2 separate regions of the Homo sapiens genome follow, and region 2 is linked to region 1. The links come from fine-mapping of genetic effects on gene expression. A gene starts in region 1. The other region holds a variant in brackets. All regions are shown on one strand. Distances are between the middles of the regions. Region 1 holds the start of FBXO31 (F-box protein 31). Region 2 overlaps FBXO31 (F-box protein 31).

Evidence for each region. PIP is the estimated chance that this variant, and not a neighbour inherited with it, causes the effect.
Region 2: its variant is fine-mapped to the expression of FBXO31 in whole blood (TOPMed, PIP above 0.99).

The regions. Positions count from the first base shown.
Region 1 is chr16:87,381,413-87,386,412 of GRCh38, forward strand. FBXO31 (F-box protein 31) reads right to left here and starts at 2,364. Exons shown (of 9, transcript NM_024735.5): 1 at 1,993-2,364. The coding sequence starts at 2,332. TRM-CAT6-1 (tRNA-Met (anticodon CAT) 6-1) reads right to left here and starts at 2,682; the gene lies at 2,610-2,682. It overlaps LOC124903747 (a long non-coding RNA gene), which reads left to right and starts at 2,521. Exons shown (of 2, transcript XR_007065168.1): 1 at 2,521-2,784. RefSeq lists silencers at 1,720-1,959, 2,100-2,759 and enhancers at 2,167-2,820, 2,821-3,472.
Region 2 is chr16:87,339,791-87,344,790 of GRCh38, forward strand. FBXO31 (F-box protein 31) reads right to left here. Exons shown (of 9, transcript NM_024735.5): 4 at 3,808-3,975; 5 at 3,087-3,161. Among named protein-coding and RNA genes, the nearest start is that of C16orf95-DT, 25 kb to the left of the region's middle. The variant C/T (reference allele first, on the strand shown) is at 2,885.

The sequences.
Region 1 (5,000 bases):
TTCACCCTCCAAGCACCTCCGGGAGCAGCACTTCCCACTCATGCTCCCAACAGGACTTGGGAAGGTGAAGCAGCTTGTCCAGGATCTCACAGCAGATAAACACGAGCCTGGGCTGGGGCCCAAGTCAGCTGACTCCAAATCAGGGGCCTCGACCATTAAGCAACAAAAATAATTTATGACGAACTCTGTCCGGGAGGACTTGGAGAAAGGGTTCTTCTCATGCAGACCTCCTTGGGGTGCAAACTCAAAGAGCCCGACAACAGGCTGCAAAGGTTTCATCAACATGCAGTCCTACAAATCCACAATCCCACTTGAGGAACTGCACCCTACCAGCCAGCGTGGGGGCTCGCGCCTGTAATCCCAACACTTTGGGAGGCCGAGGCGGGTGAATCACAAGGTCAGGAGTTCCAGAGCATCCTGGCCAACATAGTGAAACCCCCGTCTCTACTAAAAATACAAAAATTAGCCGGGCACGGTGGCACGCATCTGTAGTCCCAGCTACTTGGAGGCTGATGCGGGAGAATCACTTGAACCTGGGAGACGGAGGTTGCAGTGAGCCAAGACCGCGCCACTGCACTCCACAGCCTGGGTGACAGAGTGAGACTCCGTCTCAAAAAAAAAAAAGAAGGAAGTGCATCCCACCGAGACAATCTCAGAAGTTCCCAAGGATACATGTCAATCTCCTAAATTTCTATAAAATGCACAAAGCAGTCTTCAAAGCACTGTTTATGCATGGAAAAAATGCAGACTTCAAAGCTTATCAGTGAGGGACGAGTCTGTGCTACATGCAGGGAGTGAAATACTATGTAGCATTGTTTACACTACACTGTCTCTAAGAGAATATATATTGCATTATATCCTTTAGGGAAGAAGGTACACACGACTCAGAGGTTTTTTAAAATGTTAAGAGTGGTTTATTTTTGACTGCTGGGGTCTCTGATGGTATTTACTTTGTTCCTTTTGCTGTTCTGCATCGCTTGGATGTTTTCTAACCTGTCCTTTTTACCTAAATATGAGCTGCTTGAACATCAAAGAGCTGTCAACCTTTAAACAGAGAGAGCCTTGAACTCCAGATTAAATAAACATCTCCTCCTGTGATCTGTTACATCCAATATTGCTGAAGGCAAAAGTCCAGCCCGCACCGCTGTGATCCATCCGTCTCTCTACGCCCCCACCATCAGGAGCCCCCGACACTGGGCTTCCCCTACTCCCGTAATTTTTTTTGTTGCTGTTGTTTGAGACCAAGTCGCACTCTGTCGCCTAGGGTGGAGTGCAATGGCCCAGATGTTGGCTCAGTGCAACCTCCGCCTCCCGGGTTCAAGCCATTCTTCTGCCTCACCCTCCCGAGTAGCTGGGATTACAGGCGCCCGCTACCACGCCCGGCTAATTTTTGTATTTTTGTAAGTAGAGACGGGGTTTTACCATCTTCACCAGGCTGGTCTCGAACTCCTGACCTCAGGTGACCCGCCCGCCTCGGCCTCCCTAAGTGCTGAGATTACAGGCGTGAAACCGCGCCCGGCCTGCTCCCATTTCTTCAAGTTCACCTCGTCTCTGGTCAGGGCCAGCGGGGCACCCTCGGCTCGCCTTCAAGACAGGGGCAGAGGAGGCGGCCCCCAGGCGTCAGCTTAGGCCCCGCGCAGACCTCGAGGGATCCCAGCCCCAGCTCCCGGCACGGCCTCGGCCCCGTGGTGTCCCGTGCCCCGCGTCAGGGCCTCTTCGATGCCTCCCTGACGCCCTCAACCCCTCCCTACCCCGTCTGCCTCTCTTGGACCCCTCGGACCCTCCCTAACCGCCTCAAATACCTCCCTGGCCCCCTCAACGTGGTGTCACCGCGGCCGCTCCCCACCCACACCCAAAACACCACATCGCCGGGCCCCGCGCCCAACTGGTGGCCCCCGGCCGGGGCCACCGCCCCCGCCACTCCCAGCTCCGAGGCCTCCACCTGGCAGGGACCCCCCGCCCCTCCCGGCCCCGCCACCCCCGCGCGCTCACCCTCACGGCAACGCCTCCTCCAGATGGTGTCGGTGTGGAGGATGCGCCGGAACTTCGTGCAGACCTGGGCCAAGCTGGGTAGGTCCGTGCCCGGCAGCGACGCGAAGATCTCCACCAGCAGCTCGGGCGGCAGCTCCAGCAGCGAGCAGCGCGGGGGCGGCGGCGAGGGGCCCGCGCACAAGCCGCCCCCGACCCCGGCGCTAGCCTCGATGCGCTCCTCCTCGGGGTCTGTGTCCGGCTCGCTGTCGGCCGCCGCCGTCTCGGCCGGGCCCCGGCGCTGCTGGCGGCGCCGACATCCGCGCGACGGGCCCACGCCGCAAAGGCGAGCACACACCGCCATGCCGCCCAGTGACGGCCACTGCTGCCGCCTGTGCGCACGCTCCAGCGCGGCCCCGCCCCGCCAGCGCCGAGCCACGCCCCCGCCGCAGAGCTCGCCACGCCCCCTGGAGAGCCTAGCCCCGCCCCTACGTAGAGCTCCGCCCCGGCCGCGCCACCCCCTCCCCGCGGGGCGGCGACCTCAGAGACCCCGCACTGCTGCCCTCCCCTCCAGCGTGAGGGCGCCGCCCGTGACGGGCATGAGAAAAGAAAGTGGTGATGCCGAGTGCAAAACGTTAGACTGCCCCGTGTGAGGCTCGAACTCACGACCTTCAGATTATGAGACTGACGCGCTGCCTACTGCGCTAACGAGGCTGCTCGGCGACCACTTCGCGCCGCGGCTTTTGTGGAGATAGGGGTCGCCCCTCGCGCCCGTGCGTCCCGCTTCCGGCGCCCGAAACTGTGCCGCGCCGGCCGGTGAGTAGAAAGATGCGCCTTACAGCCTCCAAATACAGAGGCAGCAGCCAGAACCCCAAAGGGCGCCTAGAAGCCCTTTTGTCCATTGAAACAACGCGCGTTCCATCGTCTCCGCCTTATGGTAACCAAAAGGCCCGAGCTGCGGAGCTCTGCAGGGACCTTCGGGGATCCCGAGCTCCCTGCGGAAGCCCCGGGGAGGGCTTGGAGGGGCGGCGGCCGGCGCGGCCCAAGAGATCCGGGGATGCGCGCCCGGTCTGGAAAGGGAGGCCCTGCCATGCGGCGCCGCCCAAAGGGCGCCTGTTCCTGCAGCTGCTGGGAGCCGCGCACGCCTGCTCCAGCTGGGCTCCGCCGAGGCCGCTGAGCGGGGTCGTCTCCCAGGTCCGCGGGTGGTGACCGCGAAGGCGTCCTCTCACCTGAGCAGCCGCGCACGTCGCCGTGGGCTCGCCTCGGACCCCATCTCTTGGAGGCCCAGGCGGGAGTATCAATCGAGGCCAGGAGCTCGAGACCGGCCTGGGCAATACAGCGAGACCCTGTCTACAAAACAAAATTTTAGAAAGAGAAGCTGAGACGGGAGGATCGCTTGATCCCAGGAGGCCGAGGCTGTAGTGACCCGTGATGGTGCCACTGCACTTCAGCCTGGGCAACACAGCGTGACCCTGTCTCCAAAACAAACAAAAAACAAAAATAGCCACAAATGGCTGGGCGCGGTGGCTCACGTCTGTAATCCCAGCACTTTGGGAGGCGGAGAAGGGTGCATCACCTGAGGTCAGGAGTTTGAGACCCGCCTGACCAACATGGTGAAACCCTGTCTCTTCAAACAAACAAACAAACAAACCACACAGGCCAGGCGCAGTGGCTCACGCCTGTAATTCTAGCACTTTGGGAGGCCGAGGCGGGTAGATCGGTTAAGCCCAGGAGTCGGAGACCAGCCTACCCACATAGTGAGACGCCCCCATCTCTACAAATAATTTAAAAAATTAGGCCGGGCGCGGTGGCTCACGCCTGTAATCCCAGCACTTTGGGAGGCCGAGGCGGGCAGATCATGAGGTCAGGAGATTGAGACCATCCTGGCTAACACGGTGAAACCCCGTCTCTACTAAAAATACAAAAAATTAGCCAGGTGTGGTGGCAGGTGCCTGTAGTCCCAGCTACTCGGGAGGCTGAGGCAGGAGAATGGTGTGAACCCGGGAGGCAGAGCTTGCAGTGAGCCAAGATCGTGCCACTGCACTCCAGCCTGGGCGACAGAGCAAGACTCTGTCTCAAAAAAAAAAAAAAATGGTTTCAACTAATAACATCCTGCTATCTACCAGGGAGATCAGCCATTAAACAAGTAACCACATAGATAAATACATAAATTATAAATTGTAATGCTCTAACAATAAGTAAAACTAACAAGATCTTATAGCAGAGACCAGACTTTGGATGATCAAAGGTTCTTTGAGGAAATGACATTTATAAATCAAAGGAAAATTTGGAGTTAGCCAGGAGGAGAACACTTGATGGGAGAATGTTCTAGAAAAAAAGGATAGCGGCCAGGCCTGGTGGCTCACACCTGTAATCCCAGAACTTTGGGAGGCCAAGGCGGGCAGATCACCTGAGGTTGGGAGTTCAAGATCAGCCTGGCCAACATGGTGAAACCTTGTCTCTACTGAAAAAATGCAAAAATTAGCCGGGCATGGTGGCGGGCACCTGTAATCCCAGCTACTCAGGAGGCTGAGGCAGAAGAATTACTTGAACCCGGGAGGTGGAGGTTGCAGTGAGCCGAGATTGAGCCACTGCACTCCAGCCTAGGCGACAGAGCAAGACTCTTTCTCAAAAAAAAAAAAGAAAAGAATAAAAGGACAGCTGGTTGTCCCTGGCTCATGTAGTAGGCGAGGCCAGGAAGGGAGTTTTCAAGGCAATGGCACAGACGATGGTGAGAAGGAGCATCACTTGCCGGAGATCAGGGACCTCAGGAGGCCTGAGGGAAACAGGAGGCTGGTTCAGTCCAGGGTGTGGTCTGAGCAGAAGCTGAAAATATAGGATGGAAATGAAAAATGACAAGAAAAAGAGATAAAATATAGGTTGGAGTTAGAATGTGAACTCGTGGAAGACAGATGAAGCCCTCGCAAATTCGGGAATGACACAGTGATGAAAGTGGTGTTTTGGGAAGCCAACTCAGGCTTCAGTGAGCAGCGTGGTATGCAGATGAATTGTATGCAGGACGATTTTATGTG
Region 2 (5,000 bases), 42 kb before region 1:
ACAAGATGAGCCGGGAACATTCCAAAATAGAAGAGGAATACAGGCAATTAAAATACAGTGATAGGCCAGTGCAATGGCTCACAGCTATAATCCCAACACTTTGGGAGGCTGAGGTAGGAGGATCACTTGAGCCCAGCCTGGGCAACACAGTGAGACCCTATCTCTAAGCCATAAATAAAATAAAACATAGCGATAAAACTACAAGAATTCGGCCGGGCGCGGTGGCTCGCGCCTGTAATCCCAGCACTTTGGGAGGCCGAGGTGGGCGGATCACCTGAGGTCAGGAGTTCGAGACCAACCTGGCCAACATGGGGAAAACCTGTCTCCGCTAAAAATATAAAAATTAGGCAGGCATGGTGGCAGGCGCCTGTAATACCAGCTACTTGGGAGTGAGGCTGAGGCAGGAGAATCACCTGAACCCAGGAGGCGGAGGTTGCAGTGAGCCAAGATCATACCACTGTACTCCAGTGTGGGGGACAGGGCGAGACTACATCTCAAAAACAAACAAAAACTATAAGAATGAGAATAGTGTGGTACTGACATGTGGACAGACATATGGATCAGAGTATCAAGTCCAGAAATGAACCAAGTATACAGGGTAACCTAGGACAAAAGCAGCGCTACAAATTGATGTAGGAAGTGTGGTTATCACGCATCCAGTGTGGAGATAACAGATCAGGTCTGCACAGAACCAAGGCTGGGGCTAAGCCTTACATTTCACATCAGAATAGATCCAACGGAACCAGACACAGACACAAGAGAAAAATAAAAGCATGAGCTCATTTGTAAACATATGTGCTTCAGGGAGAGATCTCAGGATGGCACTAAACTGAGAGTCTTTTAAAGAAAGATGGATACATCTGCTTATGTAAAAATTAAAAATACGGCTGGGCGTGGTGGCTCATGCCTGTAGCCCCAGCACTTTGGGAGGCCAAGGCGGTAAGATCACTCGAGCCAGGAGTTTGAGACCTGCCTGGGCAACAAAGTGAGACACCCTCTCTCTTAAAAATTAACATTAAAAATAAAAAATTCCATGGATGGAAAACACACCATAAGAGAAATCCAAAGACAAAAAAAAGGAATAAGAAAAAAACCTGGCAACTCCTATCTGGAAGGGCTTCGATTTCCTAATAGTTAACAAGCTCCTACAAACCCACTTGAAACCCGCCAACACCAAACAGAAACAGAGGCACAGGCTATGACCAGACAGTTCATGAAACAGTTCATAAAACCACAGAGAGCTCCTGATCCCAAGACACTAGGCTGGTCTCACTCAGAATAAGGGAAACATAAACTCCCCCCATCAAGATTCCAGCAATACCTTCCCTCTCACCCTCACTCCTGGGTGTTTCTCTCATTTCCACAAGGAGCACATGTTGTTATATTTACAATCAGGAAAAACACTACTCCAGTTCAAAATCAGTGAGCCCACACACAGAAGTAGGCTTACAGAAACTTTTCCTAATCCCAAAGTATATAGTACCAGAAATGTAATATGGTTTTCTTTTTTAAGGGCTCAACAGCTGAGGAGTTTCTATTCTTGAAAAATCTGTTGACATTTTTCACTTAAATGTGAACCATAAGGCCAGGAGCAGTGGCTCACACCTGTAATCCCGGCACTTTGGGAGGCCGAGATGGGTGGATCGCCTGAGGTCAGGAGTTCGAGACCAGCCTGGCCAACATGGTGAAACCCCATCTCTACTAAAAATACAAAAATTAGCCAGGCATGGTGGCAGGTGCCTCTAAGCCCAGCTCCTCAGGAGGCTGAGGCAGTAGAACTGCCTGAACCGGGAAGGCGGAAGTTGCAGTGAGCCAAGATCACGTCACTGCACTCCAGCCTGGGCAACAGAGCGAGACTCCGTCTCAAAAAAAAAAAAAAAAAAAAAAAAAATTGAACCACAGCAATCACACACATACGTTGTGTTTCTGTATATAAAATCAAATCTAAAATAACAGCATAATTAAAACATTTCCGTTACTGATCATCTTCACATGCCATCTATTCAAGAAAACAGGAACGTCACTTACTTGCAAAGAATTCCGAGAAACAGGACATTTGGTTCATCTCAACCTTCTCTGCAGTCCTCTGGCTGATGGGGAAACCACCACAACTCAAACTAGCTAAGAAAAGCACACCCTGGCCGCGCGCGATGGCTCACACCTGCAATCCCAGCACTTTGGGAGGTCAAGGTGGGAAGACGGCTTGAGCCCAGGAGTTTGTGACCAGCCTGGGCAACATGGCATAACCCCGTAGCATGGTAGCATGCCTGGCTAATTTTTTGTTTTTCCTTTTGAGGCAGGGTCTCACTCTGCCACCCACATGGGAGTGCGGTGGTGCGCTCATAGCTCACTGCAGTCTCCACCTCCTGGGCTCAGACAATCCTCTCACCTCAGCCTCCTGAGTAGCTGGCATGCCACCATACCCAGCTAATATTTTTGGTTTTTGTAGAGACAGGGTCTCACTATGTTGCCCAGGCTGGTTTTGAACTCCTGACTTTAAGTGATCCTCTTGCCTCAGCCTCCCAAAGAGCTGGGAATACAGGTGTGAGCCACCGCACCTTCCTTCTTAAGAGTATTTTGAGAGGGCAGTAAGACTTAGATCCTTGAAAGCTAAAACTCAAGGGCAATATTAAAATACTCAGGCAAACAATCACACACAGGCTTCCCCGCTGCACTGGCACGATCCGGAAGCCTCCACACGGTCTGCTCAAGGATGGGAAACACAGGAACTCTGGGTGCAGCCCTCGGGTCTCCCTGCAGCTCACATCCTAGAAGCAGCCTCCCAGCAACCCCTCAGCAAGTGGATGTGCCCGCCAGAGGGGCAAAGCAGAGCTAACTGAAGAAACGGCCTGTGTGGTTCGTTCGTTCTGCAGGGGGAGGGGAC[C/T]GGCAACCTGCCCGCCCGCACGATGCTGTTCCTCGAGTGTGCCGGATGCACGGTCTGCACTGACAATACCGGCTGAACCATGTGAAACAGCCACCATGCAGGTCGCATGCTGCTGACTTCTCTCCCGCATGGGTCTGTACTTTCCCCGTGGGGAAAGGAAAGGTCCGCACCATATGAACACAGGGCCGGCTGGTGGGCTCACCTCCTGCCTCCCGCCGGACATCCTGTGGTGGTCCGTCTGGTTGCACTTGGTGGAGAACTCATCCTTCTTCACAATCTTCAGTGTTTGCAACACAAGGAAAGAGAAGAGTGAGGAACAGAGTCCATCACAGCATCCCCCACCCCAGGCAGGTGGCCACGACCCCTCCCTCACCACACCCACCAAACCCCACTGCAGGCACCCAAGATGCGACCAACGCGGTGCCAGCGGAGGGAGCTGAGTCTCCCTGAGCAACACTCCCCCAAGAGCAGGAGGCAGTGGCACATCTGAGAGAGTGGCGTTTGCATTTCCCAGCGTGACACAGAGCAGCAAAAGGGCTGCATCTCACACACAAGGTGTGGCAGATGACACGCTGTGCTCACCGTGGGGGCCACTGCCAGACCAGATCAGAGAACAGAGAGCGCACTTGATTCCACACTGATATTCTTGCAAACAGGAAAAAAAGACAGAGGAACTGAAGTTGCAAAGAAACAGCGGCTCTAACTGAGAGCAGAATCAAGAGGGGTCCAGCAAGTGACCGCTGCAGAGTCCACTGCGCCACGGAGGCGTAAACAATGCACAGCAGGGCAGGGCGGAGCCTCCCTCCCACCCGCCGATCTGCTACAGCCCAGGTCTGCAGCTGAGAATAGCACGGCAGGCCTGGCTGGAGCCCACACAGGACAGCCCTGGGACAGTGAGGACCCAGCCCCGCCGCTGCACACACCTGGATGTGGCCGTGGTGGGGCCCTTTGTGGCCGTACATGCACTCCACTGTGGCAGCCTTCCTCTCCATCAGGTGGATCCTGAACAGAGGCTTGAATCTCATAGGGTCATCGACGTGGGGGTCATGGGGAGGCAGGTACATCCACCCGATGATGAACAGGCCGTCCACCTACAGGAGGAGATGGGCAAAGGTCCATGAGTGGCTCCCGGGCCAGAGCAAGGGCGGCCCCGCACGGCTCCCCGCACTGCAATGGCACAGAGAAGCTCCTGCCAGACCAGCACATGGGACCTGCACGCCCACCCTCGAGGTGCCTCGAATCCCAGCACTATCTTCCAGCTCTGAGATGCAGGTGGACACCAGGAGGAGGCAGAATAATCCAGAAAGTGACACGGGGTGAGGTGCCGACCAGACAGAGGGAAAGGGGGTGCATCTCCCAACAGGAAAGAGTGAACAACAGCAGTGCAAGGGCCTCGTTCGCGTCCTGAGCTGAACAAATTGCCATTCAAAGGAGGCTTTGAGATGATCAGGGAAGCATCCCATGGCCTGGGCAACAGGCAACACAAGGACCGTGTGCCACTTTTGTCAGGTGTGGCAGTGACACGGAGATGCAGGAAACACCCCCTTTCTTAGGGCGCTGCCCGGAGGGACGGACAGCTGAAATGCCACGGGCCTGGGATTTGCTTCAAAACCGAAGTGCAGGGGAGGAGAGAGACGCCAAGACCCCGGGAGGGGCGCTCAGGAGCGGGAAGAGCCGAGGAGTGCGTTGCCCGTGCGATCTCGCGTGTCCGGGCGCCGATCGTGCAAATGCAGAGGCGGGTGGGCCCCAGCACGCTCTGGCCACAGCAGCCACATGCTTATAAGGAAGGACAGCCTAGCCTCACCCCCTTCTGGGAGAGCTGGGACCCATGAGACTGCCAGCTCCAGCAACCAAGGAGAGAATTCCATCATTTCTGTGGCTCACGAGCCTGGGTCAAGCGTGAGCTGGTGCTGTTCTCTCACAGACTCCACTTTCCCCAATTATCCACTGCTTTTTGTTTTTTGGGGTTTTTTTTTTTACTCTATTACTCACTGCCAGTAAGTAAAACAATTACCCTTCCTCCACTAAAAGAAAGGAAAGCAATCTGCCCACCCTGTGAGCTGCCGGGCTGGTCTCTCAGAGGAAACATCCTAAAAGCAAGGCTGGAGCACGCGAC